4 linked regions of the Homo sapiens genome follow. The protein of the gene in region 2 interacts with the protein of the main gene of each other region in a pairwise test. Each region holds a gene or a part of one and is shown on either strand. Other genes may lie near its edges.

What was found.
Region 1: the proteins of UBXN6 (region 2) and FAM168A interact in binary tests that used the Homo sapiens proteins (3 or more experiments, as listed by UniProt).
Region 3: the proteins of UBXN6 (region 2) and TRIM39 interact in binary tests that used the Homo sapiens proteins (3 or more experiments, as listed by UniProt).
Region 4: the proteins of UBXN6 (region 2) and UBXN2A interact in binary tests that used the Homo sapiens proteins (3 or more experiments, as listed by UniProt).

What each region holds. Positions count from the first base shown.
Region 1 is NC_000011.10:73,587,748-73,595,606, forward strand, and holds part of FAM168A (protein FAM168A), read right to left. Parts: intron 1-7,859.
Region 2 is NC_000019.10:4,447,025-4,454,883, forward strand, and holds part of UBXN6 (UBX domain-containing protein 6), read right to left. Parts: intron 7,070-7,859; coding exon 6,906-7,069; intron 6,499-6,905; coding exon 6,434-6,498; intron 5,469-6,433; coding exon 5,340-5,468; intron 3,807-5,339; exon of another isoform or gene 1,392-3,806; coding exon 1,294-1,391; exon of another isoform or gene 602-1,293; coding exon 526-601; exon of another isoform or gene 164-525; coding exon of another isoform or gene 81-163; exon of another isoform or gene 1-80. UniProt on the Homo sapiens protein: May negatively regulate the ATPase activity of VCP, an ATP-driven segregase that associates with different cofactors to control a wide variety of cellular processes.
Region 3 is NC_000006.12:30,329,264-30,337,122, reverse strand, and holds part of TRIM39 (E3 ubiquitin-protein ligase TRIM39), read right to left. Parts: intron 7,813-7,859; 5' UTR 7,806-7,812; coding exon 7,353-7,805; intron 6,343-7,352; coding exon 6,247-6,342; intron 1,379-6,246; coding exon 1,148-1,378; intron 1-1,147. Other genes in the region: TRIM39-RPP21 protein, read right to left, coding at 1,148-1,378, 6,247-6,342, 7,353-7,805.
Region 4 is NC_000002.12:23,935,922-23,943,807, reverse strand, and holds the start of UBXN2A (UBX domain-containing protein 2A), read right to left. Parts: upstream 3,346-7,886; 5' UTR 3,160-3,345; intron 3,124-3,159; exon of another isoform or gene 2,952-3,123; intron 1-2,951. UniProt on the Homo sapiens protein: Acts to repress the ubiquitination and subsequent endoplasmic reticulum-associated degradation of CHRNA3 by the STUB1-VCP-UBXN2A complex in cortical neurons.

The sequences.
Region 1 (7,859 bases), on a different chromosome or scaffold from region 2:
TTTAAAGCATTTTTTTTTTTGAGATGGAGTCTAGTTCTGTCGCCCAGGCTGGAGGGCAGTGGCGCAATCTCGGATCACTGCAACCTCTGCCTCTCTAGTTCAAGAGATTCTTCTGCCTCAGCCTCCCAAGTAGCTGGGATTACAGGTGTGTGCCACCACGCCCAGCAAATTTTTGTATTTTTAGTAGAGATGGGGTTTCACCATGTTAGCCAGGCTAGTCTCAAACTCCTGACCTCAGGTGATCCACCCACCTCGGCCTCCCAAAGTGCTGGGATTACAGACGTGAGCCACCGCACCGAGCCTCACATAAAGCATTTCTGCTGCATATTAAGGTACAAGAATTGTCTCAAAGAAAAGCACTAAAGCACTTGTGCAATTGAGTTGCAAACTGTACTGGCTGCTTTAATAAACACCATTTTTACTTGAAAAAACGACTGGCAGAAAAACTATGATTATTCAGACTTGGATGTTTGGCAGACAATTTTTTGAAAATGAACAATGTGAGACTGTCACTTCAACGAAAACAACTGTCAGTATTGGTTGCCTATGATAAAATTTGAGCTTTCAAATGAAAATTAGAAAAGATTTGTCTGATGAGATGAGTGGTGATATTAACAAATGTGGGTTCTTAAACATTATACAGTTCAGAAGATCTGCACATGGCCAGGTGCGGTGGCCCACATCTGTAATTCCAGCACTTTGGGAGGCTGGGTCAGGGGTATCACTTGAGCCCAGGAGTTGGAGACCAGCCTGGGCAACACAGTGAAATCCCGTCTCTATGAAAAACTACAAAAATTAGCAAGACACGGTGGCCTGCACCTGAAGTCTCAGCTACACGGGAGGCTGAGGTGGCAGGATTACATGACCACGTGAGCCCAGGAAGTTGAGGCCAAAGTGAGTCGTGAATGCACCACTGCACTCCAGTGTGAAACCCGGTCTCAAAAAAGATGCTCCACAATAACTCAATAATATAGACTGAACTGCCTCCCCTCAAAATTCATAAATTGAAGCCCTATTCCTCAATGTGATAGTATCTGGAAACACATCCTTTGGGAGATAATTAGGTTTAGATGATTTATAATTAGGTTTAGATTAGGTCATGAGGGTGGGGCTGCCATGATGGAATGAGTGCCTTCAAAAAGAGACACCAGAGAGCTTGCCTGTCCACTCGCACTTATTCTTTCTCTCTCTTCTCCCTCTCCAATCCACCATGTGAGGAAACATCGAGAAGATGGCCATCTAGATGCCAGTAAGAGAGCCCTAACCAAAAACTAACCATGCTGGAACACTGATCTTGGACTTCTTTCTAGCCTGCAACACTGCGAAAAAATAAATTTTTGTTGTTTAAACCACCCAGTCTATGGCATTTTGGTATGGCAGCCAGAGCAGACTAAGATATTCAGTGAACCAATATTTTCCAAATGACCAACGCATAATGCTACAAAAATTATGCACGGGTAAAAGATCTAACAAAGTACGAACAGACCAATGGTTTTTCTTGGAGAAATAAGCAAATTAAAAAATAATAAAGAAAAAAACAGACCAATGGATTTTAATGTAACAGAGCATGAAAAGCTCAGTGATATGGTTCAGACTGTACAAGGCAATGAACCTTAACAAACTACCAATTGTCAAGTTTTGGTGTAACATGGGCGTCCAACCTTTTGGTTTCCCTGGGCTACACTGGAAGAAAAATTGACTTGGGCTTCACATAAAATACACCAACACTAACGATAGCTGATAAGCTGAAAAAAAAAAAAAAAGAAAAAAAAAGTGTGTATAATTTTCATGATATCCACTACAGATAAGCAAAAAAGTCCTCACATTCAAAGGGCTGGACATGACTGGTGTAGTATCAAAGAGGAATATCCACAATTATATAAAAACATTCCTCCTTTCGGCTGGGCACGGTGGCTCACGCCTGTAATCCCAACACTTTGGGAGGCCAAGGTGGGTGGATCATGAGGTCAGGAGTTCAAGACCAGCCTGGGCAAGATGCTGAAACCCTGTCTCTACTAAAAATACAAAAATTAGCTGGGCGTGGTGGCGCACGCCTGTAGTCCCAGCTATTTGGGAGGCTGAGGCAGGAGAATCACTTGAACCCAGGAGGCGGAGGTTGCAGTGAGCCGAGATCCTGCCATTGCACTCCAGCCTGGGCGACAAGAGTGAAACTCCGTCTAAAAAGAAAAAGAAAATTCCTCCTTTGTGGGACTGGATTTTCTTTATATTCCATGCAAAACAACAAACTGCAACAGACTGAATACTGAGGCAGATCCAATAAGATACTAAAGAGATTGTTTTAAATGTAAAATATTATTCTAATTTTTTACATTTAGAATAATATACTTATTTTCATTAGAATATGCTAACACAGCTGAAGGCAGTGGCTCATGCCTGTAATCCCAGTACTTTGGGAGGCTGAGGCAGGAGAATTGCTTGAGCCTAGGAGTTCAAGACCAGCCTGGGCAACTGAGCAAGATCCTGTCTCTACAAAAAAAATTTTAAAATAACCAGGCATGGTGGCACATGCCTGTAGTCCCAGCTACTTAGGAGGCTGAGGATGGAGGATCACTTCAGCCTAGTAGGTCAAGGCTGCAGTGAGCCATGACTGTGCCACTGCAAGCAAAAGTTCTTTGGAGTTGTCAATAAATATGAATGTGAAGACACCAAAATGTTTGAGAAACTGTTGCTACATAGCAATAAGCAAGAACACACTACACCTACATACAAGAATAAATGAGTCTCACAAATATATTATATATGAAAAGCCAGTCACACCTATGAAACGTCATAAACAGGCAAAAATAATCTACATTATTAGAAGTTGTTGGTTTCCTTGGAGGAGGAGATAATGTTCCCTTTCTTGATCCGAATGCTGGTTATACATTTTGTGCATTTTTTTCTACATGTTATACATACCTCAATATAATTTATTTTTAATTTATATTTTCCATATAAATATACACACATCTGCCTTATGCTCACCTACAGAAGTTTTGTTAACACTGGTCGAGAGTAGAACTGACACATATCTTTTTTTTTTAAACAGCTCCTCGGGTGATTCTAAAGAGTAGCCAGATACTACCTGTCTAAATAGGTTGAAGACTACTGATTAGGCTGGGTGCAGGCTCACGCCTGTAATCCCAGCACTTTGGGAGGCCGAGGCAGGCAGATCATCTGAGGTCAGGGGTTCAAGACCAGCCTGGCCAACATGGTGAAATCCCATCTCTACCAAAAATACAAACAATTAGCCGGGCATGGTGGCACGGGCCTGTGGTCCTAGCTACTCAAGAGGCTAAGGTAGAAGAATCACTTGAACCTGGGAGGAAGAGTTTGCAGTGAGCAGAGATCGTGCCACTGTACTCCAGGCCGGGAGACAAAGCGAGACTCTGTCTCAAAAAAAAAAAGAAGACTACTGATTTAACAGCTTAAAACCAGGAAGATTTATATGCAGTACAACAAAAAGAACAATGGCTCTGGAGCAAGGCAGATCAGGTTTTTAAATACGAGCTTTTCTTCTCTTACTAGCTATGTAAACAAATGCAAACTAGTTAATCACTATATGCCTCAGTTGCTTCAGTTTCTTCTTCTGTAAAATGATCACAATTCCTTATACGACACAAATATGAGGATTAAATTCTATCTATAAGGAAAAGAAAGCACCCAGCATACTGCCTGCCATAGACACTCAAATGTTAGGTACCTTTTGTCTTTCCCTGCTAATTCCCTACTTGTCTTATGGCCTAAGACAAATTACCCTCTTGAATCTTTTTATTCATTTATTTATTGAGATATAGTCTTGCCCAAGCTAGAGAGCAGAGGTATGATCATAGCTCACTGTAGCCTCAAATTCCTGGGCTCAAGTGATCCTCCCACCTCAGCCTCCAAAATAGCTATGAACAGAGGTGCACGCCACCACATCCAGATAATATTTTTGTTTTTTGTAGAGACTGGATCTCACTATGTTGATCAGATTGGTCTTGAACTCCTGGGCTCAAGCGATCTTCCCACCTTGGCCTCCCAAAATCCTGGGATTACAGGTGTGAGCCACTGCACCCAGCTACCCTCTTAGAGTCTTAATTTCTTCATCCTTAAAATGAAAATAATGCCACATGACCAACCTAAGAACTATATATAAAATGGCGCCATTATATTTGCATAAGTATAAATAGCATAGCTGTTATCTACTGATAGAGACATTTGCTATCAACTCAAAATAAAAGATAGAGGAAGACACATTAGAAAACTAAAATACTTAGAAAAATTATAAAACAGAGGCTAGAAAAGAAATACAAGTTAGCAGAAATCGTCAAGCTTGAGCGACATGATCAGAAGGCAAATCAAGATCATAATCTCAAGTAGCCAAGGATTGAAGTTTACTGTGAAAAATATATCATCTCAGGGTTCCTTCAAAATGTCTATATCTAAGAAAAAGCACAACCTATATCATCATAAAATAGGCATATTCTGAAAGGACCCAGACACCTGCCTAACTGGCAGGAGGAGGAGGTGTATTGGAACTTTATAAACTGAGGTTTTCTCAGAGTGTCTTCATACAGAAAATAATGGCTCATTTAATAAAATGTTAAACTTTTAGATAAACATAATTTGACAAAAAAATTCTATACCATTGTTTTCAATACTAAAGATATGCATAACTGTCCAAGGAAGTAAATTTAACAAAATAGAGAAAGAAATATGAACTTGGTTTAGTCTCTTTCCTCTTCAATATTTTACAACTTTGAGTTGATTTCTGTTAACGTACCAGGGGTCGGCCAGCTATGGCCCGCCCATGGCCTATTTTTGTATGGCCTGTGAGTTTTACATTCTTAAAACCACATAAAAGGAGGAGAAAGAGAAGGGGAGGGAGAAGAAGGAATGGGGAGAAGCAAGAGGAGGGGCTTCAGGAAGGAGAAGAACGGGGAGGGAGATGGGGAGACAAAAAGGAAGGGGAGTGGAAGGGAGGAGAAAGAACAACAGAGGCCATATGTGGCACAAAATATTTTCTACAAAAAGCATTTGCCAGCCAGGCATGGTGCCACATGCCTGCATTTGTAAGCACTTTGGGAGGCCGAGGAAGGAGGATCACTTGACCAGGACAACATAGCGAGACCCTGTCTCTACCAAAAAAAAAAAAAAGTGTTACTGGGTAATAGGACTAAAAACAATACTTATGCTTCTTTTTACTTTTTGTAATTTCTAGTTTTTATCATGAGCACACATTATTTAATGGTGGAAGAAATAAAGCTTTTTTAAAAGTTAAAAAATAAGAATAAGAATAAAGCAAGTCAGAAGAATATTTATCCTATAATTCTATTTATAAAAAGTTGCAAAGGTAAAAAATATACTGTTTAGGGATATGCACATATTTGGTAAAAGTATAAAGAAAAGCAAAGAAATGATTCACATAAAATTTAGGAAACTGTTTATCTCTGAGGGAGAGAGAAGATGGGAGATTCAATCAAGTAGGACCTCACAAGAGGCTTTAAAGGTACTAGAAATCTCCTTTTTGTTAAGCTGGGTAGCAAGTAGAAAAGCCTTCAATTTGTTATTCTTTAAGTTGTGGGTTTATGTTAAATATACTTTTATACATATGACATATTTTACAATTTAAAAAAAGGATATAAATGGGGATGACAAATTAGAATTTGGGGGCTGTAACCCAGACTTTTCCACTGACTGTGTAACCTTAAACAAGTCATTTAACCTCTCAGAGCATAATTTTTCTTCTTATTTTATTAATGAGGAAGCTAACAGCTAACATCTGTTTAGGACTTTGGCATTTAAAGAACTGTTTAAAGTTCCTAGACTGTAAACATGCAAATATGCATGAGATCATAAAACAAAATCATACCTCATTAATAAATACCACAATACTAAGAACTCATTGGTAGGGCACACAAGGCTATTCACCATTCTAGCCTCTGCCTATCTTTCTAACAATAAAGGCAACAACTAATTTTTTTAATGTGTACTATAAAACATATTGTGTGAAATGCTTTCCATTGATTATCTTATTTAATCCTCAAAACAATCCTATGATGTTAATTCTATTATTCGCACTTTACAGATGAGCCCATTGTGCCCAACGTCACACAGCTAATAGTAAGTGGTAGACAGACTTCAAAACCCACATTTAACCATAGCATTCATTTTGCCTCACTTTTCTCACCGTATTTGTCTATCTTTCCCATGACACTGAAAGCTCCTTGACAACTGCTTTCTGTTCATTTTTATTTCCCCTGGCACTTAGCAGACATTCATTAAATAAATAAATAGTGAACAGATATTTCATATATGTACAGTGTTTTCAGGACATGAACTGGTTTGTTCCCCTTGACAGCCTTGTGAAGTATGAAAGTTTGATTGTGTGACAGGGTCTCATTCTGTAACCCAGACTGCAGTGCAGGGAAGCACGATCATGGCTCACTGCAGCCTTGACCTCCCTGGCTCAAGCAATCCTCCCACCTCCCTCCTGAGTATCTGGGATTACAGGTATACGCTACCACACCCAGCAAATTTTTTTTTTTTTTTGTGGAGACGGGTCTCCCTATGTTGCCCTCACTGGTCTCGAACTCCTAGGCTCAAGCAATACTCCCAGCTCAGCCTCCCAAAGTCTGGGATTATGGGCGTGAGCCACTATGCCTGGCCAGTTTTTTTGGTTTTTGAGGTTTTTTTGTGTGTGTATTTTTACCTTTTTAACCAAAGTTAAGTGTACAATTCAGTGGTATTAACTATGTTCACAATGTTTTGCAGCCATTACCACTAAATATGAAAGGTTTTTTGTTTGTTTTTTGTTTGTTTGTTTTGAGACAGAGTTTCGCTCTTGTTGCCTATGCTGGAGTGCAATGGCGCAATCGTGGCTCACTGCCCACCTCCCCAGTTCTAGCAATTCTCCTGCCTCAGCCTCCCAAGTAGCTGGGATTACAGGCACGTGCTACCAGCTAATTTTTGTATTTGTAGTAGAGATGGGGTTTTGCCATGTTGGCCAGGCTGATCTCAAACTCCTGACCTCAAGTGATCCACCCACCTCGGCCTCCCAAAGTGCTGGGACTACTGGCGTGAGCCACCACGCCTGGCCATCTGAAAGGTTTTTAATGACTTGACTGAAATCACTCAGCTTTCAAGTAGTAGAACTGGGATTTGAATCTGGGACTCAACTCCTAAACTCATGGGCTATTCGTTCCACAAAGGCTTCTGTCTATCAATACCTCCATCTGCTCTCTTCTCACCAAGATATCGGGAGGATCAAATGAGGTAAAGATACAAAAACACATTACTACTACACAGGTAACCACGGCTGTGGAAAAAAAAAATCCACCAACACATTTCTCCCAGGCACTTTTCATTTTGGGCTTTCAAAAGCTAGGGCTTTAATATAAACATCCCACCTCTAGACCAAGCCTGCAGATCTGCAAAAACAACGTCTAGACCTCAGAGTAAAGTTATGAGAGAAATGCTCACATTAGATTACAGTCTCACTGAATTACAGGTAACTGCTCAAACCTGATCTTTATTATAATACAGAAAGCTTCCTCATTACAAAACACTTTCAATTCAAAGGATAAGTCCAACGTTCCATCATTCTGCCCATTTTGGAGCTAAAAAAAAAAGATTCTAAATGGTATTTTTATATGCTCAATCGTGAAAGCCAAGGAAAATGGTTTGTTTGCGAGCTAAATTCTGAAGCTTGAACAAAAATAAAAAGAATTATTTCGATCCCAATGGTGCCAATTTTATCTTCTTTACATCCCTCCTCATTTTTTTTCAGTCTGAGCTCTAATCAACAGCCACTTTATGTTTAACATATTATCACAGTTAATGCAATTAGGTCCATAGAACTGTTTCTCTAAAGATGT
Region 2 (7,859 bases):
CGACCCCTGGATGGGGCCCAGCCCTGGGGGTGCCTCAGTGCTGGATGCAAACCTGCTTTTCTACGGTGGGGGCTGTGGAGTCTCCAACAGCTCTGCACAGAGGAAAGAGTCACAACCAGGCACGAAGAGTGAGGCTGAGGAGCCAGACACTGCTGGGGCCTGATGCGAGGCTAACACCGCCCAGGACCCCAGTCCCTGCCCTTTCCCCCAGAAGAACCAGACATCTGGTTTGCATGAGAAACCTCCCCAGAGTCGACATGTTCCCAAACAAGCCCAGCTGAAGAGGAGGAAAAGGATGCAGGTGAGGAGAGGCAGAATTTGTTGATTTGGGGTGACCGGTGCATAAAAGTCTTGCTCTCCATCTTGTCCTGCTACCTTCTACTGGCCGAACCCTTCACTGCTTGTGGCTCAACTCTCGCTAGCTCCTCCAGGGAGCCCACCGCCTGGTGTGGGCCACCACCGGCTCCTGCAGGCCAGCTGCCCCCACCCCCAGCCTGGGCCCCGGGGGCCAGAAGGCACGCCCACCTGAAACACCTTGTTCTGCAGCTTGATCTTCCGGTACTTCTCCTCCTCGGGGTGCAGGTGGATGTTGTCCAGGTACCTGGGGTAGGTGGAGAAGGTGAGTGGGGCACAGCCCAGGCTGCCCACCCGGCCCCTCTGTGCCTCCTGCTCCAGGTAACAGCAGCTCAGCCACACTTGGCCTCTAGTCAGAGGGAAGAAGCGGCCCAGTGACGCGAGGGCAGCAGACCATCTCCGGGTGGAAGGCACACCTCGGACACCCCATGGAGCCCACCCCTGGTGCCAGCAGGAGCCCCACGGAACCCCTCACCGTCCCACCAGCCCTGGAAGGGCACAATTAACCACAGCGGTGGGGAAGCCACAGTGCCGGAAGAGTGGAGAGCCAGAGCTGAAGGGCCGCAGTGCCAGCAGGGGGCTCCTGCGGGGTGCTCCCTCGGCGTTGGCGGGCAGCGTGGACCTCCAGGCCTGCCCCCGATCCTGAGACCCGGGGAGTGGGGTGGGACCCTGCCTCCTCCACATGTTCCCCAAGGAAGCCAGGGTGGGAAACCCCTGATTCCTTCAACACCTTCATTTTGCACACGGGTAAACTGAGGCCCAAGGAGGCCCAGCCCTTTGCCTGAGGCCTCTGGGTGGAGCTGCCTCACTCTCGGCCTATGCTCCTTCCCAACCCACCTCAGCAGGTAATGAGGGGGCCAGAGGGGGTGACAGCCCCAGTGGGAGGGGTGCTGGGATGAGCTGGAGGGGCCAGGCAGGGCAAAGGGGCCACACGCTCACTTGGCAATGGTGTCCACACCCAGCTTCACCCGGTCCTGGTCTTTGTTGAACGTGTAGATCTTCATGATGGAGGCGGCCACTGGGTCGGTGGAGAAGTGCTGGGAGGAGGGAAGCAGGGAAAGCCACTCACTGAGAGCCCGGGCCGCACGGCCCTCCGCTGCCCAGGTAACAGGGGCAGGAAAAGGAAGGCAGAACAGCGGCTTGGAGCGGCCCCAGCTGTGCGCTCATCACAGAAAGGAAAAGAGAGACCCTCCAAGACCGCAGCCCTGCCCACGCCCCAGGGCAGAGGCGACGCAGCCAAGACCCAGCAGAACTCAAGTCTCCCCTTCCGCCTTCTCAAGGCTAGATCCATGGGACTTGGAAGCCAGTGTGACGCGACAGAACTGTGCCTCACACTCTGGCTTTAGAACTCGACCTCAGTGCTGAGATCCATCAAGGCCACCGCCACTTACAGAACCTCCCGCCACCATGGACGCCCCATCCCTCCTGCTCTCGCAGCCCCATGATGGACGTTCTGGAACCACTCCCGGGCCTCATGTTTACAAAGAGACCGAGAGGCCCATCGTCCAGGGTCACAGGGATGGCAGGTGGCAGAGAGGACACAAATGAGTCTGCAACCCTCAATGTCTGAAACTCAATAGCTGGAAGACGGATACCCCCAGCCCCTGCCCCTCCCCGAGGTCCCACCTATCCACCTATGTTACCGGGGGAGGGGAGAAGTCATAGCTGGAACTCTGGGGGTTTCCCAGAACCAGCCCTGCTGACTGCGAACAGCGTCCCAGCATGGAGAGGCTGAGAACAGTACGTACCCTAAGACCTGGAAAAGATTGGGGCACAAATCCACGCTCGGCACAGCCATCACACACGGCCACACCCAGAGAGCCACCCATGGCCTGGGAAGCAGGGCTGCCACCCGCACCTCCCTGGGCTGCCCAGACGAGGGCGGGTGAACAGAAGGGCAGCCCAGGGCCATGTGTCAGGATTCGGGCCACCTGCCCAGGCAGCCCAGAGCTCCACCCACCACCCCCCACCCTCAACTGCACAGCAGGGTCCCTCAGCAGCCCCCTGCGTCACACGGACCAATGACCTACACACTGAGCCGGGGCTCATGCCAACTGAAAATTGGGACCCGGCCCAGTCTGCCGGTTTAGTTGCTGAGATGATGTGGGGAGCGGGACAGAGCACGTGGATGCAGAGAGGCAGAGCTGCCAGATGGGCATGTCCCCAAGACAACAGCTTCCTTGGGATCAGAGCGCCCGGGACAGCACACCAGCCAAGGGAAGCGTGTCAGCTCCAAAAGCGGGCCTCGGGCGTTTTGGGCGACTGGCTGCCAGGCTTAGGTCAGGAGCTGGGTACATGCACAGACAAGGGACGAAGGAACAGCAGCCAGGAAGGGGTCCAAATCCATACAGGAATGTACTTTGTGAGAAAGGTGGGATTTCACAGCTGTAAGCAAAAGACAGGTGCTCTCGACAGGTGGGGCTGAGAAGAAAGCTGAGCCAAGATCTAAAAAAAAAATTACATCAGCTCCATCCCACCATGTTACATAATAACATGCTCCAGCTGGATCAAAGCTTCAACCATGGAAACAAGCAAGCAGTCAAGGAGAAGCCAGAAGAAAAGCTCTGGAGGCCGGGCACGGTGGCTCATGCCTGGAATCCCAGCACTTTGGGAGGCCGAGGCGGTCGGATCACGAGATTAGGAGAGCGAGACCATCCCGGCCAACATGGTGAAACCTCATCTCTAAAATACAAAAGTTAGCCCGGGTGTGGTGGCGTGCACCTGTAGTCCCAGCTACTTGGGAGGCTGAGGCAGGTGAATTGCTTGAACCCGGGAAGCAGAGGTTGCAGTGAGCTGAGATTGCACCACTGCACTCCAGCCTGGTGACAGCAAGACTCTGTCTCAAAAAAAAAAAAAAAAAAAGCACTGGAGAGGCCACAAAAGAATTCTCTCAGCATGGAAATGGGGAAGGCATTTCTAAGAATGACCCCAAACCCAAAAGCCATGAACTAAAACTGACACATTTAATTATACAGAGATCAAAAAATCCTACACAGCAAAGTGACCATAAGCAGAGCCAACATAGAAGCAACTAGAGGGAAACATGTGCAACTCATATCATAGGCAAAAGCCTAAATTGCCTAATATGTAAAGAGTGCTGCCGGGCACGGTGGCTCCCGCCTGTAATCCCAGCACTTTGGGAGGCCGAGGCGGGCGGATCACGAGGTCAGGAGATCGAGACCATCCTGGCTAACATGGTGAAACCCCGTCTCTACTAAAAATACAAAGAATCAGCTGGGCGTGGTGGCGGTTCGCCTGTGGTCCCAGCTACTCGGGAGGCTGAGGCAGGAGAATGGTGTGAACCTCGTAGGCGGAGCTTGCAGTGAGCAGAGATGGCGCCACTGCACTCCAGCCTGGGCGACAGAGCGAGACTCTGTCTCAAAAAAAAAAAAAAAAAAAAAAAAAAAAGAGTGCCTACAAATCACTAATAAAAAGACAAACTATCTACTAAATAATGTAGAAAGGACGCATTCTCATATGAAACATGGCCAATCCAAAATAAGGAAAGTGCAAATTAACTCTATCCTGAGATGTTATTTTCACCTACCAACAGGCGTAAAGATCAAAGTTTGGTGATTTACAGTATGGTGAGAGGATGGGGACACGGGTGCTTTTGCACACACTGCTGGAGTGGGTGTGAGTCTGGAGAGTCTATGGAACTATTACTATTTTGTTTTGTTTTGTTTTTAAGATGAAGTTTCGCTCTTGTCACCCAGTGTCCACGCTGGAGCTCAATGGCGTGATCTGGGCTCACTGCAACCTCCACCTCCCAGGTTCAAGCGATTCTCCTGCCTCAGTCTCCTGAGTAGCTGGGATTACAGGCGCCTGTCACCACGCCTGGCTAATTTTTGTATATTTAGTAGATAGGGGGTTTCACTATGTTGACCAGGCTGGTCTTGGAACTTCTGACCTCAGGTGATCCACCTGCCTCAGCCTCCCAAAGCACTGGAATTACAGGCAAGAGCCACCGCGCCCAGCCACTTACTATTTTCTGAGAAAGGGTCTCACTTGTCACCCAGGCTGGTGTGCAGTGGCATGATTACAGCTCACTGCAGCCTCTACCTCCCAGGCTGAAGCAATCCTCCCACCTCAGCCTTCTGAGTAGCAGGGACTGCAGGTGCACGCCACCATGCCCAGCTATTTTTTTTTGTTTTTGGCAGAGACAGGGTTTTGCCATGTTGCCCAGGCTAAAGCCGAAGTTTCTGAGAACCTATTGATGGTGTTAAGTGAGGACTTGCTGTATTGGAAAAAAATGCTGTGGACGTTTTTATTTTTTGAGATGGAGTTTTGCTCTTGTTGCCCAGGTTGGAGTGCAATGGCGCTATCTCGGCTCACCACAACCTCTGCCTCCTGGATTCAAGCAATTCTCTTGCCTCAGCCTCCCGAGTAGCTGGGATTACAGGCATGTGCCACCATGCCTGGCTAATTTTGTAGGAAGTTCTTTCTGTATTGAAGCAAATAATACTTAACCTTTTATGAAAAACAACCAGGCCACGCGTGGTGGCTCACGTCTGTAATCCTAGCACTTTGGGAGGCTGAGGCGGGTTGATCACTTGAGGCAAAAGTTCGAGACCAGCCTGGCCAACATGGTGAAACCCCATCTCTACTAAAAATACAAAAATTAGCCAGGCATGGTGGCAGGTGCCTGTAATCCCAGCTACTTGAGAGGCTGAGGCACGAGAATCGTTTGAATCCAGGAGGCGGAGGTTGTAGTGAGCCGAGAATGCGCCACTGCACTCCAGCCTGGGTGTCAGAGTGAGACTCCATCTCAAAAAAAAAAAAAAAGACACCTAGTTGGGAGAGAGGAGATACAGATGCATACACAATGGTGTGCCTGGATTTGGGGTATCAGAGGAGGGGCTTCACTACTAGCAGTGGCCTCTGGGGACTCTGGGAGGGATCTGTACCACCTGGGCTTCCGATGGAGGGTGGCTCAGGCACAGGAAGCTACAGGTTGGGGCAGGAGCACACAGGGTGCCACTCACCAAGAGAATGGCCTCCTTGATGCAGGCGTCCCGCTGGTCCTTCCTCAGGGTGGCCCCAGTGAGCGGACAGGTGAAGTACACGCCAGGCACAGCCAGGTGGGCAGAGCCTTCCTCTCTGGGCTCAGATACCTGGGGCGGTGAAAGCGTCCAAGTCTGGACCGTGGACAGAGGCCACCCCGACCCTCGCCGAGCACCACAGTCCTGAGTGTGGCCCGTAGAACCAGACATCTCCAGCCCCCATGCTGTCCCTTCCACCTGGTGGCCGTGGGAGACACCCTGGCCAAGTGACCGGATCCCCGAGTCTTTTCCCTGGTATGTCAAATGTCCCTGTGGGGCCTGCTCAGAACTAAACGAGGTAAGGAACGGAAAGTACGGAGCAGCTTCTGACACGCAGGAAACACCCAGCAGATGGCAGCTGGGTTCCTGCTGGTCCTGTCCCCAAGCTGTTGAGGAAGGAGCTCTGTGTGGGTGTCTGCGGGCACAGTGCGCTGGACAAGGCATGACTTCTGGGCCTCCATTTCTAGGCCATCTCTAAGGTCCCTGCGTGCTAAAATTCACTGAATCCTCGAGGGTCAAGCTGCTTAGAACTCCTTTCAGCGGAGCTCTGAAGGCCCACCTCCTAGAGGAAGGCCTCCCTGATTCCACCCGTCTCCACAGAGCCTCTTGACCTCCAAGGCAGGCAGGACTGGGCAGTGCTAGGGGACAGGCTCTGAAACCACAGACTGGCTCTGGTCCTGCCTTTGCTGGTCCTGGGGTGTAGGAGAGAGGACAGCTGGTTTCACCTCTCTCAACCCCGGTTCTCTTTTTGAATAGTGGAAACTGTAACTGCATCTGCCCTTAAGGGGTTAAGGGGAGGGAGCGATGGGCTCGTGTACCTGAGGCCCACTTCTCCAGGCCTGAGCCGGCATCCTCAGCTGCCGAGCCCCGAAGGTCCCAGACAACACCGTGTTCCACCACAACCTGTGTCCACCTTGCAAGGCAAGGTTTTCCAACAGCCCTTGAGCCCCAAGGGCAGAGGCCACATCTCCCCCGTGACACAGTCAAGCTGTCCCCACCCCTTGGCATGGGACAGTGCCACCAGTGGCTGTTCTTACCACGTTGGTCCCTGGGGCCTCGGGGCTCCCGCTGACGGTGGCTTCGGCTTGAAGTTCCTTTCTCACTGGAAGGCAGCCCAAGAAAGAGAGGCAGAGACGGGATAGTGAGCACGCCGCTGTCCTGGCCCAAGCCCCCTCATTCCCGGGGTGGGCCTGGGGGCCACGCACACCGCCCCAGCCTGCTTCTGCTGGAGGTCAGGCTGGAGGTCCCCTGCAGGACTTGCTGTGCAGCCACCCCTCAGCCTGAGCAAGCACCCCACTGCCTGGGCAGCCCGTTTCTGCTCCAAGTCTCTGCTCCCACCCCCTCCCCAGGAAGCTGCCCTTCCCCCAGCACCTGCCCTTGATGAGCCGCTCCCAAGGGTGACCCTCACACCCCCACGGTTGCTCATGTGACTTCTGCATCCAGGGCCAGGCACCAGGGCCGAGAACCTCAAACAGCCCCAACCTGGGCCCGAGGAGGGCCATATCTCACCCTGGTTTCGGATGGTGTCCTGCGATGTGGGGCCCCAGGCCCGGGACTGCTTCTGCTCCAGCCGGGCTAGGGCGGCAGCGGCTGCCATCTGTGCCTCATTGGTGGGTCCCTGGCGGGGCGGCCTGGGGGCTGGCTGGTTGGGCTTCTCTTTGTGGGCCTTTTCCCTGGGAACAGACCGAGGGAGAGTGAGTGTATCCTCCCGAGGTGGCCGGCAAAGCTGACGTGCAGTCACACAGAGGAGCTTCTGCCCCTCCCCAGCACCATCAGCCAGACGTGTCCCTGCCTATGTGGGCCAGGACACCTGGTTCCCAGGGGCCACCTGCAGCCACCAGATGGTTCTACTGCAGGCGGAAGAGCCCCTGGAGGAAGGAGATGCTGGTTCCACTCAGCTCTGCACCATCGGGCAAGTCCTGCCCCCACTGGCCCTCAGCGTCCTCATCTGTAAAATGGGGTGACAGCACCCCTCCTGAGGTGAAGGCACCTTGACATCCTCAGTGCTTTTTTTCTTTTTGAGACAGGGTCTTGCTCTCTCACCAAGGCTGGAGTATAGTGGCACGATCATGGCTTACTGCAATCCTGAGCTCCCAGGCTCAAGGAATCCTCCCGCCTCAGCCTCCCAAGTCGCTGGGACTTAGAGGCAAGCATCATCATGCCTGGCTAATTTTTCTATCGAGACAGGGTCTCGCTATGTAGCTCAGGCTGGTCTCGAACTTTTGCCTCAAATGATCCTCCCACCGTGGCCTCCCAAACTGCTGGGATTATAGGCATGAGCCACAGCACCCAGCCCGCATCCTCAGGAATTGAGGAGACTCAAGGGGTGTCACATCCTCCCTCCCTCCCTGCCATAAGACTCTCCACCCTCAGGTCACAGCTTCGTTTGCTGAGCACCTACTGTGTGCCAGGACCCTGCTGGGAGCTGGTCGGCTCGCTTGGTTTACTCCTCCTAACAAGCTG
Region 3 (7,859 bases), on a different chromosome or scaffold from region 2:
CCCTTTACTGAAAATTTTAAGTTGAGACCTACTGCTCAGAAAAAAAGATTCCTTTCAAAATATTACTGCTCACTGACAATGCACTTGATCACCCAAAAGTTCTGATAGAGATGTAAAATGAGATTCATGTTGTTTTCACGTCCGCTAACACAACATCCAATCGGCAGCCCATGGATCAAGAAGTAATTTGGACTTTCAAGTCTTAATAAATGTATTTCATAAAGCTGCTATAAATAGTGATTTTTCTGATAGATCTAGGCAAAGTAAATTGAAGGCTTTCTGGTAAGGATTCACCATTCTAGATGCCATTAAGAACATTTGTGATTTGTGAAAGGAAGCCAAAATATCAATATTAACAGGCATTTAGAAGAAGTCTATTCCAACCCTTATGGATGACTTTTAGGGGTTCAAGACTCCCATGTTGTAAGTAACTGCAAATGTGGGTTTTCAAAGATTTTCAAAGAAGTTCTACTGGTGAGTAAAATGCTATTAAACAGCATCACATGCTCAGAGATATCTTTCATAAAAGGAAGAGTTGAAAGTAAACTTCGTCGTTGTCTTATTTTAAGAAATTACCACAGTCACCCCAATCTTCAGCAACCACCACCTCGATCAGTCAATACTAACACAAGACCCTCCACCAGCAAAAATATGATTCCACTAGGAAACCCAACAATTAATGTGACTTGCTTTATCAAGATACTCGCTTTATTGAAGTGGTATGGAACTGAACCCACAATATCTCTGAGGTATGCCTGTATCCTTTAAACTATGTTTCTGTCCTTTTTCAGCAGTACATAAATCAAATTTCAGGACTTAAAAGTAATGGTAACTGCATTTACAAAATTTTTAATGCATAGTTTTTCACTAACTCAGGCTAGACTTCCCTCCTTTCAAAAGAATGAATCTTTTCTTTGGAACAGATTAAGCACATAATTGCTGACCAGAGATAAGAACACAAAAATGGTTAGAAGGGGATGGGAGAAATCACTTTTCCGTAGCAAAGACCCTTTGAGTACACCTGGCAGAAAGAACTGGATTTAGAGAAGGAGAGCAGAAGAATGAGTATCCCAGGCTGACAAATCCCAGGCTACGCAAAGCTACGCTGCACTCAGCCTGAGGGGCTATGCAGGGGCAAAGGTCGAACCTTAAGCATCTCGAAGCCTGACTGTAAGCACTTGCCCTCCACCTCGGCAGCCAAGTGGGCCAGGTCCCGGCGCTTGTCCCCAAGGTGAGCAGCATTTTCTCGGAGTCGCTGCAGAATGTCCTGTTCCTCTTCTTCCAGTCGTGAAAGCAACACCTGCTGCTCTTCATCCAGCCGCCTATGAAGCTCTTCAAACTCCCTCAAGATCTGCTGTCGGCGACTTTCCACTAGTCTCTGAGAAGAGAGGGAAGATGTTGTATCAGCAGGGTCAGTGTGGTATAAGGAAGCCTTTCTCTCACCCACCATATGTATGAATTAACACAGACTTCCAGTTTCATTGAAAATGGTTTAACAAAGGCTGGGTGTGGTGACACATGACTGTAATCCCAGGACTTTGGGAGGCCGAGGGAGGTGGATTGCTTGGGATGAGAAGTTTGAGACCAGCCTAGGTAACATGGTGAAACCCCAACTCTACAAAAAATACAAAAAATTAGCTGAGTCTGGTGGTGCATGCCTGTAGTCCCAGCTACTGGAGAGGCTGAGGTGGGATGATGGCTTGAGCAAAGAAGGCAGAGGTTGGAGTAAGCTGAAATTGTTGCACCATTGCACTCCAGCTTGGGCAACAGATCGAGATGAAAGACAGACAGACAGGAAAGAAAGACAGAAAGACAAAGACAGAAAGAAAAGAAAGAAAGAAAATGAGAGAAAATGGTTTAACAGAACACTCATTTTTTATTCCATTGGAATTTCCTTCTGTAAAGAATGGCTCCATCACTATCACCCCCCTACTGATGACTTGGTAGTGAAGACCACTGCGGATATATATATTTGTTTTAATTTAAGATAAAGAACTCAATAATATGATGACATTAACTATTACAGATATCAGAGATATCTGTGTTATTATCAACTGTAAAGTTCTAGTTAATTCAATCTGTCGAGAAAAGGAAAGTATAGGCTCAGCATGGTGGCTCATGCCTGTAAACTTAGTGCTTAGGAGGCCCAGGTGAGAGGATCACTTGAGGCCAAGACCAACCTAGGAAACATAGTGAGACCTTGTTTCAACTAAAAAGAAAAAAAAATTAGTCGGGCATGGCAATGCACATCTGCAGTCCTAGCTACTCAAAAAGAATCAAGAGGATGGATGGCCTGAACACTGGAGTTTGAGTTAGTGTGCTGTGATCACTACTGCCCTCCAGCCTGGGTGAGTGAGATTCTGTCTCAAAACAAGCAAACAAAAAACAACGAAACAAAAAGGAAAGTACAAATAATAAAAAGTTAAAAATAAGATTGTCATCCTTTGCATATTGCAACACATGCACCAGATAAAAACCAGAGAACTGGGAAAGTGTAAGAATCAGTAAGAGTTATATGGGTTATTATAAAATATACATATGTAGATTTCAGGGCTGAACTTGTTAAATTGTTTCAAGTCACTTCAGAGAACTGGCAATTCCTACCCCAGGAACAGGTTACAGAAGTTTGTTAGTAATTTAGTTTCTTGAAATTTGAAACATGCTTTCTTTAAGCCAGCACACAGACTTAAGCCTCTAACATTCCTGAAATTTGATAATATAGGACTCAAACACCAGCCATAACACTTTCTGAGAATTATCAGCACATCCTCTCTTCTGCATCTCCACTACAACAAATAGTGATCTCCCTAAAGAATTCCCCAAGCATCATGTGACTGATGATGAAGCAAAGTGAGAAGCAGAGACTGGGACTCTAGAAGGAAGTGGATAGGGAATGAAAGGCAGGCTTGAGGGTGGAGAGAGAGTGGGGATGCAAAGCCAGGATGGGCCTGACAAGCGTGGCATTTGTGGATTCAAGCTAGTTCCTGGCAGAGGCTGACTAGCTCTTCTAGTTTAGGGCCACTTGCTGCTTCACTTTCCACCACTGCCTTCTCAGTGTACATCTGAACAAAATATATTCTCACATTTGCCCTCAATAAAACACAGCCTTTGTGTGTGTGTGTTTGCACATGTGTGTGCATGCATGTGTGTTTGTTTAGGTATGGGTGTAAGTTTAACATTCATGACTGTGATAAATAGGAAGCAAAAAGGCCCTTCCTCTTATAAACCGGTAATCTTTTCTCTTTTTTTCACTCTATATTTTAGGGCAGTGGTTCTTGATGAAGCTGTTAACACACTCTGAGGATATTTTGGAAATAGGCACATCTTCTTGTTTTCCATGGTTGGGGAAGTTCCTGACAATGACGCAAGCACTCCTCCAATGTGTGAGACAATCCGGCATAGTGAACTGACCTGCAACATTTTCTAATGTTCTGCTGGATATTCAAAAACACAGGCCTGGGCGGCCAGGCACGGTGGCTCACGCCTGTAATCCCAGCACTTTGGGAGGCCGAGGTGGGCAGATCACAAGGTCAGGAGATCGAGACCATCCTGGATAACACGGTGAAACCCTGTCTCTACTAAAAATAGAAAAAAAAAATCAGCTGGGTGTGGTGGTGGGCGCCTGTAGTCCCAGGTACTTGGGAGGCTGAGGCAGGAGAATGGCATGAACCCGGGAGGCAGAGCTTGCAGTGAGCCGAGATGGCACCACTGCACTCCAGCCTGGATGACAGAGCGAGACGCCGTCTCAAAAAAAAAAAAAAAAAAAAAACCACAAAAACAAAAACATAGGCCTGGGCTTGAATGCCATTTTATATAGTATAAACACAGAGTAATTCTTACATGGTTTTACTATACGTGAATTTTTCAGCAATAGCTGAATAAAACCCAAGATTATATTGTTATACTTAGAACTTTACCAAAAGTTATTACTATGAAAAATCATATCACCAAGAGCTAAGCTACTTATGGTATTTCAATCATATTGGCACACATCCATCTCAGTCTGAATTTGTATTTATGGCGTTGCTGATAATGACACATATAGGGGCAAGCATATAACCAGCTACACTGTAAAGTCGTTCAGGGTAGTCATGCCCAAATATTACATACCACATTTTATCATCAATTATGTTTCATTATATTATATTTGGACATGATAGACTCTTTAAAATTTAACATTATGCACATAGGTTATATTACCTGTAATTTTCAGTTCAGCATAATTACAAATTATTTTTTAAAGGGGCATTGAGTCTGATGAGGGAGAAGGAGGGAGAATTCAAATGGTCACAAGAGGAATGTTGGTGGTAGTTTTGGAGACCACTGAAATGACAATTTACAGTTTAAAAAACAGGACAGTTCTGTTCAAGCATTTAGAAGGTTTTAAAAAGGTATATTTCTCTCTCCATCCTTTACCTTCAAGAAGGTGATCAACATGAAGAAGAAAGTTAATGACTAGCAATAAGCACCATTTTCATATTTTTAGGTTTCTTGGAAGGCCTCTAAAAGAACAAAAAACTTTAAAAGTTCACATTTCTAACCAAAATTGGTTCAAATTTTAAAATTTCAAATGCTTACTTTGCTAAAATGTATAAGGCACTAAGGTAATAATACTTGCTTTCTGATGAAATGTTATCATTCATTTAAAAATTCATGTTTCTATGAATCAAAACTTGGATTTAGCTTCTGGTGATCTCTACATGTCAACTCTTAAAAACTCATTACTTCTTCGGGAAACCTTTAATGAGGCCAAATTTCTATGTTGTCTTCTTATGAACTTGCAGCTGTGCATTTTGTGCCATTACTTATTTTCTCCACTTAACTTTAAGCTCAAGGAGGGCAGGAACTGTGTTTTTGCTCATCATTGTTCCCCAGTGTCAAATACCGGGTTTGGCCTAAACCAGGAGCTTAACAAATATTTACTGATTCACGAAGAACTAGTATTCCTGGTTTTGCCACTTACTGGCTTTATGATCTTGGACTAGTCACTTACCCAAGGTCCATTTCCTTCTGTGTAAGCTGAAGGTAATAATACCTACCTTAAAGAATATCTAGGTTTACCCCTACATCTTACTAAAGATGGCCTCAGGATTTCCTTCTGTCTCTTTCTCGTAGCTTTTCTATGTCTCACTTATCCCAATTTGGCCTGAACTCTAAGACCCTAACAACCCTATAAATCTGGAATGTTACGGATACCTAATGAATTAATGCATAGGACTCAATTCTAGTTATTTTTGCTACAAATGATAATTGTTCACTGTTCAATGGAAGACAGACAGACACCAAAATACCATGCTACAAATAAGGCAATGCTATAAAAGAGGTGCAAAATTGTATGAAAATTAAGAATGTTAATTTCTGAAGGGTCAGGAAAGGCTGCATAGGAAGTGGCTTTCATCCCGCCTGAGAGATGAATAAGATCCTATGGTGGAGGATGGGGAGGGGGAGAACATTCTAGCATATGTAAGCTTACTTGAGTTTTAAGAATGTGGTCCTAATGTCATTAGATAGTTCTTCTGAGACTCTTGGTCAGCTCCTTTTCCCTTTCTCCCCAGTGAATCTTCCATATTCTCCTCTCTTCAAGTCCTCTAAGAAACTCCCATCCCTGCCTTCTCAGCAGAAAGCCTCCTTTGCTGCTTTAACAAAAAAAGGAGACCAAGAGGCACGAACTCTCTCAGCTCACCAGATGTAAGATATTCTGTCTGTTCTTCATCTCTTAAATCCCTCTTAATACTTAATTCATGACAAGTAATTTAAGTACAATGTTTAATGACAATCAAGCCTAATAAAATGCCATCATTTTTGAGAGAACTACATTGTTCTTTTTTTTTTTGTTTGTTTTTTTTGTTTGTTTGAGACAGAGCCTTGCTCTGTTGCCCAGGCTGGAGTACAATGGTGTGATCTTGGCTCACTGCAACCTCCGCCTCCCAGGTTCAAGCAATTCTCCTGCCTCAGCCGCCCAAGTCGCTGGGACTACAGGCATGTGCCACCATGCCCGGCTAATTTTTTGTTTTTAGTAAAGACAGGGTTTCACCATGTTGCCCAGGGTGGTCTCAAACTCCTGAGCTCAAGCAATCTGCCCACCTTGGCCTCCAGAATTGCTGGGATTACAGGTGTGAGCCACCATGTCCGGCGAGAACTGCATTTTTCTAATGAACCGGAACTGGTGGATTAAATAGTGTACAGTTAATTCCCTCATAGGCAAATACCCTTCAGAGCAGCCTACATGGGATTGCCTGCCTTTACCTTGAGCTCACCAGGCTTCTTCTCCTCAGAGGACTTGCAGCGAGTGATCTCCTGCAGCTTCTGTTCCAGGGGCTCCAGACACTTCTGCAGTTTTTCCTGAGGGGTAGGGAGGAAGTGGGAGAGGTGACATTTGGGGTTGACTGGTATACCTACCATTCAGAGATTAAACCATTTGTTTTAAACCATTTATTTGCTTCCTAGCCATCTTACTGCCTCTTGATCTGACTTCCTTCCTTGCCTGTCATTTGGGATGTCAACTTTCTACAGTCCCTCCTCCTGCCACTAGCCTGTCCACATCACCTTCTCTGCTCACCCAACTGTCCTTTTACTGAATCTGAGATAGCTGTCATCAACTCTGTGTCCTTTCTCAACTCTTTCCATTTTCTTACTGAGGCAACTGCCTATTACCATCCAAGCAACCTTCTGTACCCTAATATCTCTCTTTAAACCTGTCCTCCCATCCACCTCTGTCCACCTACAATAAAAACATGGTTATTATACTGTAAGTTACCTGAAATCTTGTTTTCAAGAGTAACATAACTAAGCAAAGTATATGATAAAATGCTAACACATTCATATCTCTGTTCCCTTTATTCAAACATTTTCCTTTGTCTCAGCAGTAAGTTAAATGATATGCCATGTTACCCATTACCTAGAGAAGCTGCAAACAATTGAATGGTTCAGCTTAGTCCGGTAGGTATCAGTCTCAAGCGATATTACCTATGCCCAATAACCAGTGTGAAAACAAGGAGCATTCTGAGCAGGCAGGCAGAATGAAGAAACCAGACTACTTTTCAGTTCTTCCTAAGTTTAATCTTTTCCATGTGGTTTCATTCATTTATGAAAAATATGACCACACATACCAATATTCACCCATAAGACTCACATGTATTGCAAAAGTCAGAGAGAAATTTTAGGGCACTTCTCACCATTGCTCTTTTTCAGGCTAGAGGACAACTGATCACACATACTGTGTGCCCCTGCATATGCAGCTCTGAGAATACAAAGTGAGTAGTAGGAGCTTACGATCTCTACCTAGGGAGTATCTCATCCTCTGCCGCTTCTCCCTTTTTACCCACACTGACATCGTGTGTCTGCTTCCCCACCTTGTACTCCTGTGTAGCATCGTCCAGTGGCACAACGGTGTGGGCCCGGTGGGTGTGGGAAATTGCACATATCAAGCATACAGCCTCCTGGTCCTCATAACAGAAAAGGCTGAGGGCCTCATGGTGTTGGGGGCAGAGGCTCTCATCCCGGATCTTCCGCTTGACGGCCTGGAGCTGCTTGGCAATTTCCACCATACTGCCTAGTTGCCGATTAGGTCGGAGACTGCGGTAGCGGGATGTCTTTCGACAGACAGGACAAGGGAAGTCCCTCTCTAGGTCCTCCCACCAGCGGGTGATGCAAGCTTTGCAGAAGTTGTGCCCACACTCAATGATGACAGGTTCCTTCAGATACTCCAGGCACACAGAGCAGCTCGCCTCCACCTGTAAGTTCTCCAAAGCCGCAGCTGTAGAGGCTGCAGAGGCCCCAGCCTCTAACAGACTTGTCTCTGCCATAATTTAACTTGGGAGTGGGGAAGAGGACAGAGAAAATAAAAATATTAATTGGAG
Region 4 (7,886 bases), on a different chromosome or scaffold from region 2:
TAAATATAATCTCCTTTAGCTGGGCACGGTGGTTTAAGCCTGTAATCCCAGCACTTTGGGAGGCCAAGACGGGCAGATTACCTGAGGTCAGGAGTTCGAGACCAGCCTGACCGACATGGTGAAACCCTGTCTCTCTCTACTAAAAATACAAAATTAGCTGGGTGTGGTGGTGCATACCTGTAATCCCAACTACTTGGGAGGCTGAGGCAGGAGAATTGCTTGAACCCAGGAGGCAGAAGTTGCCATGAGCCAAGATTGGGTCATTGCACTCCAACCTGGGTGGCAAGAACAAAACTCTATCTCAAATAAATAAAAACATACATACATACAATCTCCTTTAGAAAACCTTCCATGATTCCTCCAATAGGTGTGAATATAAAATTATTAACATGAGAAGAGATCAGTTAGGTACTCTTAAATTTTCAATGCCTTCATTGCCACAATTCTAGTCCCAACCACCATCAACTCTAGGTGGTCTCCTCATTTCCATTCTTGTCCCCATCCAATCCAGTTTCTACACAGCAGTCAGGACGACTTTTTGAAATAAAAAGTTGGCCAGGCACGGTGGCTCACGCCTGTAATTCCAGCACTTTGGGAGGCTGAAGTGGGCAGATCAGAAGGTCTGGAGTTCGAGACCAGCCTGGCCAACACAGTGAAACCCCGTCTCTACCAAAAATACAAAAAACTAGCCAGGCATGGTGGCGCATGCCTGTAATCCCAGCTACTCGGGAGGCTGAGGCAGGAGAATCGTTTGAACCCGGGAGGCAGAGGTTGCAGTGAGCGGAGATTGCACCACAGCACTCCTGCCTGTGCGAGACTCCGTCTCAAAAAAAAAAAAAAGTTGTTTGTAGTAAGACTTACCTTGCTTTAAACTTTTTTTTTTTCTGACGGAGGTAAACCTTTAAACGACTTCCTATTACTGTTAAAATAACATCCAAGTCATTTGGGTAATATTACGGGAGAGTTCATTGTACTGTTCTCTCCCTACATTTGAGTGGTTTGAAAAGTTTTCTATAAAAGTTTAAAAAAGAAAAAGAAACAGAAAAAGCTGGTCCCAAATCCTTAACATTGCTTAAAAGGCCCTGCATCAGCCGGGCACGGTGGCTCACGTCTGTAATCCCAGCACTCTGGGAGGCCGAGGTGGGTGGATCACCAGAGGTCAGGATTTTGAGACCAGTCTGACCAACACAGTGAAACTCCATCTCTACTAAAAATACAAAAATTAGCCGGGCATGGTGGCGCGCATTATAGTCCCAGCTACTCGGGAGGCTGAGGCAGGAGAATCGCTTGAATCCGGAAGAGATTGCAGTGAGCCAAGATCGTGCCGCTGCACTCCAGCCTGGGTGACAGAGCGAGACTCTGTAACAAAAAAAAAAAAAAAAAAAAAAGCCCTGCATCATCTCTTTGGCCCTAACCTACTTTATCACAGCACCCTTTTGCTTTCCACACAACAACTGCTGAAGTTCCTGAAATGACCATCTTCCCTAGCCTCCGCGCCATCTATTTCCTTTGCCTGAGCCTTTCTTCTCTCCTTTGGGAGTCATCTTCCCCTAATTCCTATTTATCCCTAATATCTAAGCTCAAAGATTACTTTCCTAGGAAAACTTTCCCAGCTTGGATAAGTCCCCCTGTTACCTTCTCTCACAAACAACTTACATTCTTTATTTTAGCCTCTGTCTTTGCTTATTGGCATTTATTTGTGTGATTATTTATTTTATTTTACTTTTTGAGATGGAGTCCCGCTCTGTCACCCAGGCTGGAGTGCAGTGGCACCATCTTGGCTCACTGCAACCTCTACCTCTCGCCGGCTCAAGCTATTCTCCTGCCTCAGTTTTTCTGAGTAGCTGGGATTACAGACGCCCCCCATCACGCCCAGCTAATTTCTGTATTTTTAGTAGAGAGAGACGGGGTTTCACCATGTTAGCCAGGCTGGTCTAGAACTGCTGACCTCAGGTGATCTGCCCACCTCAGCCTTTCAAAGTGCTGGGATTACAGGCGTGAGCCATCGCTCCGGGCCCTGATTATTTGCTTAATATCTGTTTTGCCCAATGACACTGTAGAGTCTAAAGGCAGAGTCTGTAATTGTCACTATTGTATCCTTAGCATTCAGTACACAGTAGGTACTAAAATTTTTTTGAATGAAAAAAATTAAATCAAGTGTATGCTAATTATTATACATTATTAAATTAAAATGCAAGTAAAGTACCCTCCACAGTGCCCAGCTGAAAACAACTGCTCAGTAAGTGTGAGCTTCCATTAACACTGGACTGCAGTCAGCCTCATATCATTAGTGTGCTTAACCACTCCCTCCTGCACACATTTTTTACACATTTTTGGACTCCGCCAGTGCCTAGCACTAACATTAGTGTTATAAAAAGATACTCTGTATTCACTGAATTTAATTGCCTTTTAAATAAATCCGACTTTCAGCATATTTAGAAAGAAGACACAACATGAACTTTTAAAGTTTCCCCCCTAAAAACAAACTGCAACCGGCCAGACTTCATACTACCACATTATTTTCTGCATTCGCATCAAAACAAATCAGCAGTTTCCTATCTTTACTTATCTCAAATTACGTACATAGGAACTCAACGCTGGATGCCACACGAACATTCATCATTGCTGACAAGTAATAAACTCTTTTATTACTGGCAGCGAAAAGGAAAAAAAAAAGGCACAAAGAAGAAATTAAGGAAACGTGAAATCAGCGAACACCAGGCCTTCAAAACATCAGAGAAAGTGAGTGGTGGGAGTCGGGTGAAGTCACTAATAGGCATACTTTGTATCACTGGACTGCGATCGTGCAGCGTTCGCCTTTGAAAATAGAAACATTGTGTTGCGCATAACTGTAAGTTTCGGAACGCCCTGCGAGAGAACCAGGAGCTGTGCCTTCAGCTAGCTCGCAAGTCAAGCCGCAGGCGAGTCAGGGGCTCGGGGTCGCCGCTCACCTGGGCTGGGCGGGACCCTGGCTCGGGCTCCGCCGCCGGCGCCCCTTCCCGAGTCGCAAACACGCGGCCCTCCGGAGCGAGACTCCCCCCGACACCGACGATCCGCGGCGGCCAAGCCACAGGCCGCGACCCCTCGGCCCCAGCCGGCAGGCGACCGCCCCGCCCCGCCCTCACCCCGCCGGACGCGGCGCGGCCCCGGGACGCTCACCTCCGGGCACGGCCTCCCGGCCTCGGCCTCACTCAGCTCAGGCACCGCAGGCACCGTTTGGCCGCGGGCTCCGTTTGGCTGGAGCCCTTCAGAGCCGGAGCGCCGCCGCCCCAGACCGCCTCAGGTTCCGCGGCCGCGCCGCTGAGATCCCGCCAGCCTCTCTCGGTCTTCGCCAGGCGCCCAAGCGCGCGCCGACGCCGGCTCCGCGCAGACCCGAGGAGCGCGCGCGGACGCGGGGGCGCGCCGAGGGCGGGGCTTGCCGCGGCCGGGCGCTTCAAGTCCCGGCGGGAACGGCGCTAATGGCCGCCTCCCCTTCCCACCACTGGCCCGGCGGCTAGCTGCCTTCATGGGTAGGGGAGATGCAGGCAGCTCGGTGTGTGCTCACCAGAGAACCCAGAGTGTGCTTACCTGGGTACCTCCTCAGCCTCAGAAACCATGGAGAGACATCCCTGCATTCTGACAATGTTGAACTTGACCTGAGCCCTGTGGACAACGAAGTTGAAGAAACCCCCACCCACCTTTTTTTTTTTTTTTTTTTGAGACTAAATCTCGCTCTTGTCCCCCAGGTTGGAATACAATGGCGCGATCTTGGCTCACCGCAACCTCCGCCTCCCGGATTCGAGCGATTCTCCTGCCTCAGCCTCCGGAGTAGCTGGGATTACAGGCGCCTGCCAGCACGCCCGGCTAATTTTTGTATTTTTAGTAGAGACGGGGTTTCACCATGTTGGCCAGGCTGGTCTTGAACTCCTGACCTCAGGTGATCCGCCCGCCTTGGTCTCCCAATGTGCTGGGATTACAGGCGTGAGCCACCGCGCCCGGCCCCTTTGTGTTCCTAAAAGGACTTACTACACGCAACCGCCCTTCCGCATGTGACTTTGTCAGGACTCAAGGATGCCCCCGTCGTTAGCTGTGACAAGGTCAGGCCCAGACCCTCTAAATTCCAGTTCTTCGCCTCGCAAATAGTTAGCTGACCTGCCTGTACTCACGATGTGGACAAATCCCGGCTGCCTTGACTTGACAGGACTTGAGTGAAGCAGCTCTCCCTGGGCCTCTCTACACGGTGACCGAGCCTCAGCCGCAGCCAGCGAGCAGCCCTCCTCATCCACCGCCTGAAAATAGACGGACCCCAGGGAAACAGTCTCTGTATAGTCTCATCGCTGCCACCTCCAGTCTTCTCCCCACTTCCCCACACCCGGGTCTTTCTAGCCCTGTTCACTCATCTCTGTAAAAGGAAAGCCCTTTTCTGCCTGACCCAGGAGATCGCTGCAGATCTCATGGTTGGAGAGTTCTCCCGGTTGCTGTAGCCTCCCCCAATCCCCACTCTCAGTTGCAATAGTTTCTTTCCCTTTTCTTGGATCTCTTCCACTGAACTCTCTCCTTACGTATATCCAGATTTGTTTTTTATTTTATAGTCCAGCATTCTCCCAATTGCAACAGTCCTTCTTCCTATTGCAATAGTTCTCCACCCTTATTGCAATAGTCCTTTTCCCCCCTGTTGCAATAATCCTTTCCGAATAAAGTCTCGGTTTGCCTAAATCGGGATTTATTTGTAAGTCTTTAGTGCGGGGACTCAGATTGAGATTGATCCTCACCTACAGGCCCATGCCGTTCCCCCCACCACCACCTCCCTCATCTCCTGTTCAGTGATTTTGGGAGCCTGTGGTGAGTTCAAATCTCACTGCTCATGAGACCGTGTCTGTTGAAGCACAATAAGGAGTTAAATTGATCCCATTAGGCAAAGAGACTTTTCTTTGACCATTCTGTGAGAGCTCTTCCGATTTTTTGGTCCCAGCACCATTTAATGAAGAGAGGATTCTTCCCTTGTCAAAAATCAATTGACCATGGATGTATAAATTTATTTCTGTACTCTCAATTCTATTCCATTGATTATGTATCTTATCTTTATGCTAGTACCATACTATTTTGATTACTGTAGCTGTATAGTAGCTGTATACAGCTGTATAGTAGCTGTATAGAAATCAGGAAGTTTGAGTCCTCCAACTTTGCTCCTCTTTTTCAAGATTGTTTTGTCGCTTGCAGTTCTGTATGAATTTTAGCTCAGCTTTTCCATTGCTGTTAAAAAAAAAAAAAAAGGGAGGGGGGGGCCACTGGGATTTTGACAGGGATTGCTTTGAATTGGTAGATCAATTTGAGGAGTATTGATACCTTCAATTTTTTTTTTGAGATGGAGTTTTGCTCTTGTTGCCCAGGCTGGAGTGCAATGGCATGATCTCGGCTCACTATAACCTCCGCCTCCCAGGTTCTAGTGATTCTCCTGCCTCAGCCTCCCAAGTAGCTGGGATTATAGGCATGCACCACCATGCCCAGCTAATTTTTGTATTTTTAGTAGAGACAGGGTTTCACCATGTTGGTCAGGCTGGTCTTGAACTCCCGACCTTAGATGATCCACCCGCCTCGGCCTCCCAAAGTGCCGGTATTACAGGTGTGAGCCAACACACCCAGCCGGAGTATTGATATCTTAACAATACTGGTGCGATGACTCACTTTATATATAAAGTCTTCAAATCCTTAAGCATGAATATTTTTGCATTTATAGTCGTGCGCCACATAACAACCTTTCGGTCCATGACTTACAGCATATGTGATGGTGGTCACATAAGATTATAAGGCCATATTTTTACTGTATCTTTTCTATGTTTAGATACACAAATACCATCATGTTACAATTGTCTACAGTATTCAATACAGTAACATGCTGTCCAGGTTTGTAGCCCGGGAGCAAGGCTATGCCATATTGCCTAGATGTGTAGTACACTATACCATCCAGGTTTGTGTAAGTATACTCTGTGATGTTCACACAACGACGAATTCACTTACACGACACATTTCTCAGAAGGTGCCCCCATGGTTAAGCACTACATGACCATACTTAGACCTTCTTTCATTTCTTTCAGCAGTGTTTTATAGTTTTCCACGTACAAGTCTCGTACCTCTTTGGTTAAATATATTTCAAAGTATTTTATTCTTTTTGATGCTATTGTAAAAGGAGTTGATTTATTTCCTTTTTAGATTTTTTATTGCCAGTATTTGGAAATACCACTGATTTTGTGTGTTGATCTTGTATCTAACAACTTTGCTGAATTCACTTATTAGCTCTAATCATTTGCTAGAGATGGGGTCTCCGTACATTGCCCAGGTTGATATCGAACTCCTGGGATCAAGTAATCCTTCCACCACAGTGTCCTGAGTAGCTAGGACCACAGACGTGTGCCACCATGCCCGACCAATTAAAAAAAAATTTTTTTTGTAGAGATGGAGTTTCACTGTGTTGCCCAGGCTGGTCTCGAACCCCTGGCCTCAAACTATCCTCCTGCTTGGGCCTCCCAAAGCACTGGGATTACAGGTATGAGATACCACACTTGGCCATAGTTTTATTTATTTCTTTCTAATGTGGATGCCTTTTATTTCTTTTTATTGTCTAACTGCTCTAGCTAGAACTTCCAGTACAATGTTGAATAGAAATGAAGAGGCTGGGTGTGGTGGCTTACACCTGTAATCTCAGCACTTTCGGAGGCTGAGGCAGGAGAATTGCTTGAGCCCAGGAATTTGAGACCAACCTGGGGCAACATAGCGAGACTCTATTACTAGACTTAAGAAAAACAGAAAAGAAATGATGAGGCCGGGCACGGTGGCTCATGCCTTTAATCCCAGCCCTTTGGGAGGCTTAGGCAGGTGAATCACTTGAGGCCAGGAGTTCGAGACGAGCCTGGGCAACATGGTGAAACCCCGTCTGTACTAAAAATACAAAAATTAGCCAGGCGTGGTGGCAGGCACCTGTAATCCCAGCTACTCGGGAGGCTGAGGCAGGAGAATTGCTTGAACCCAGGAGGCAGAAGTTGCAGTGAGCCGAGATCACGCCACTGCACTCCAGCCTGGGTGACAGAGCAAGACTCTGTCTCAAAAAATGATGAGAGTGGGCTTCTTTGTCTTGTTCCTAATTTTAGACAAAAAGCTTTCAGTCTCTCTCACCATTGAGTATGATGTTAGGTGTATGTTTTTCTTTTTCTTTGAGACAGAGTCTCTCTCCATCCCCACAGCCCATAGTAATCTCTATTCTACTTTCTTTCTCTCTTTTTTTTTTTGAGGTAGGATTTTCACCAGGTTGCCCAGGCTAGTCTCAAACTCCTGGACTCAAAACAATCCTCCCACCTTGGCCTCCCAAAGTGCTATGATTACAGGTCTGAGCCACCACGCACAGCCTATTCTACTTTCTGTCTCTATGAATTTGCCCATTCTAGATACCTCATATACGTGGACTCCTACAATATTTGTTCTTTTTTGTCCGGCTTATTTCACTTAGCATAATTATTTTCAAGTTCATTCATGTTATAGCATGTGTCAGTATATCATTCCCGTTTATGGTTGAATAAGATTCCATTGTATGTATATATTACATTTTGCTTATCCATTCATATGTTGACGGCCATTTGGGTTGCTTCCACCTTTCTGCTATCTTGAATAATGCTGGTATGGACTTTGGTATACAAGTATTTGATTGACTCCTTACTTTCAATTTTTTAAAATTTTTGTTTTATTGTGGCAAGAATATTTATTTATTAATTTAATTTATTTATTTTTGAGACAGCCTCCCTCTGTCACCCAGGCTGGAGTGCATTGGTGCAATCTTGACTCACTGCAACCTCCCCCTCCCAGGTTCAAGGGATTCTCTCACCTCAGCTTTTCTGACTGGCTGGGATTAAAGGTGC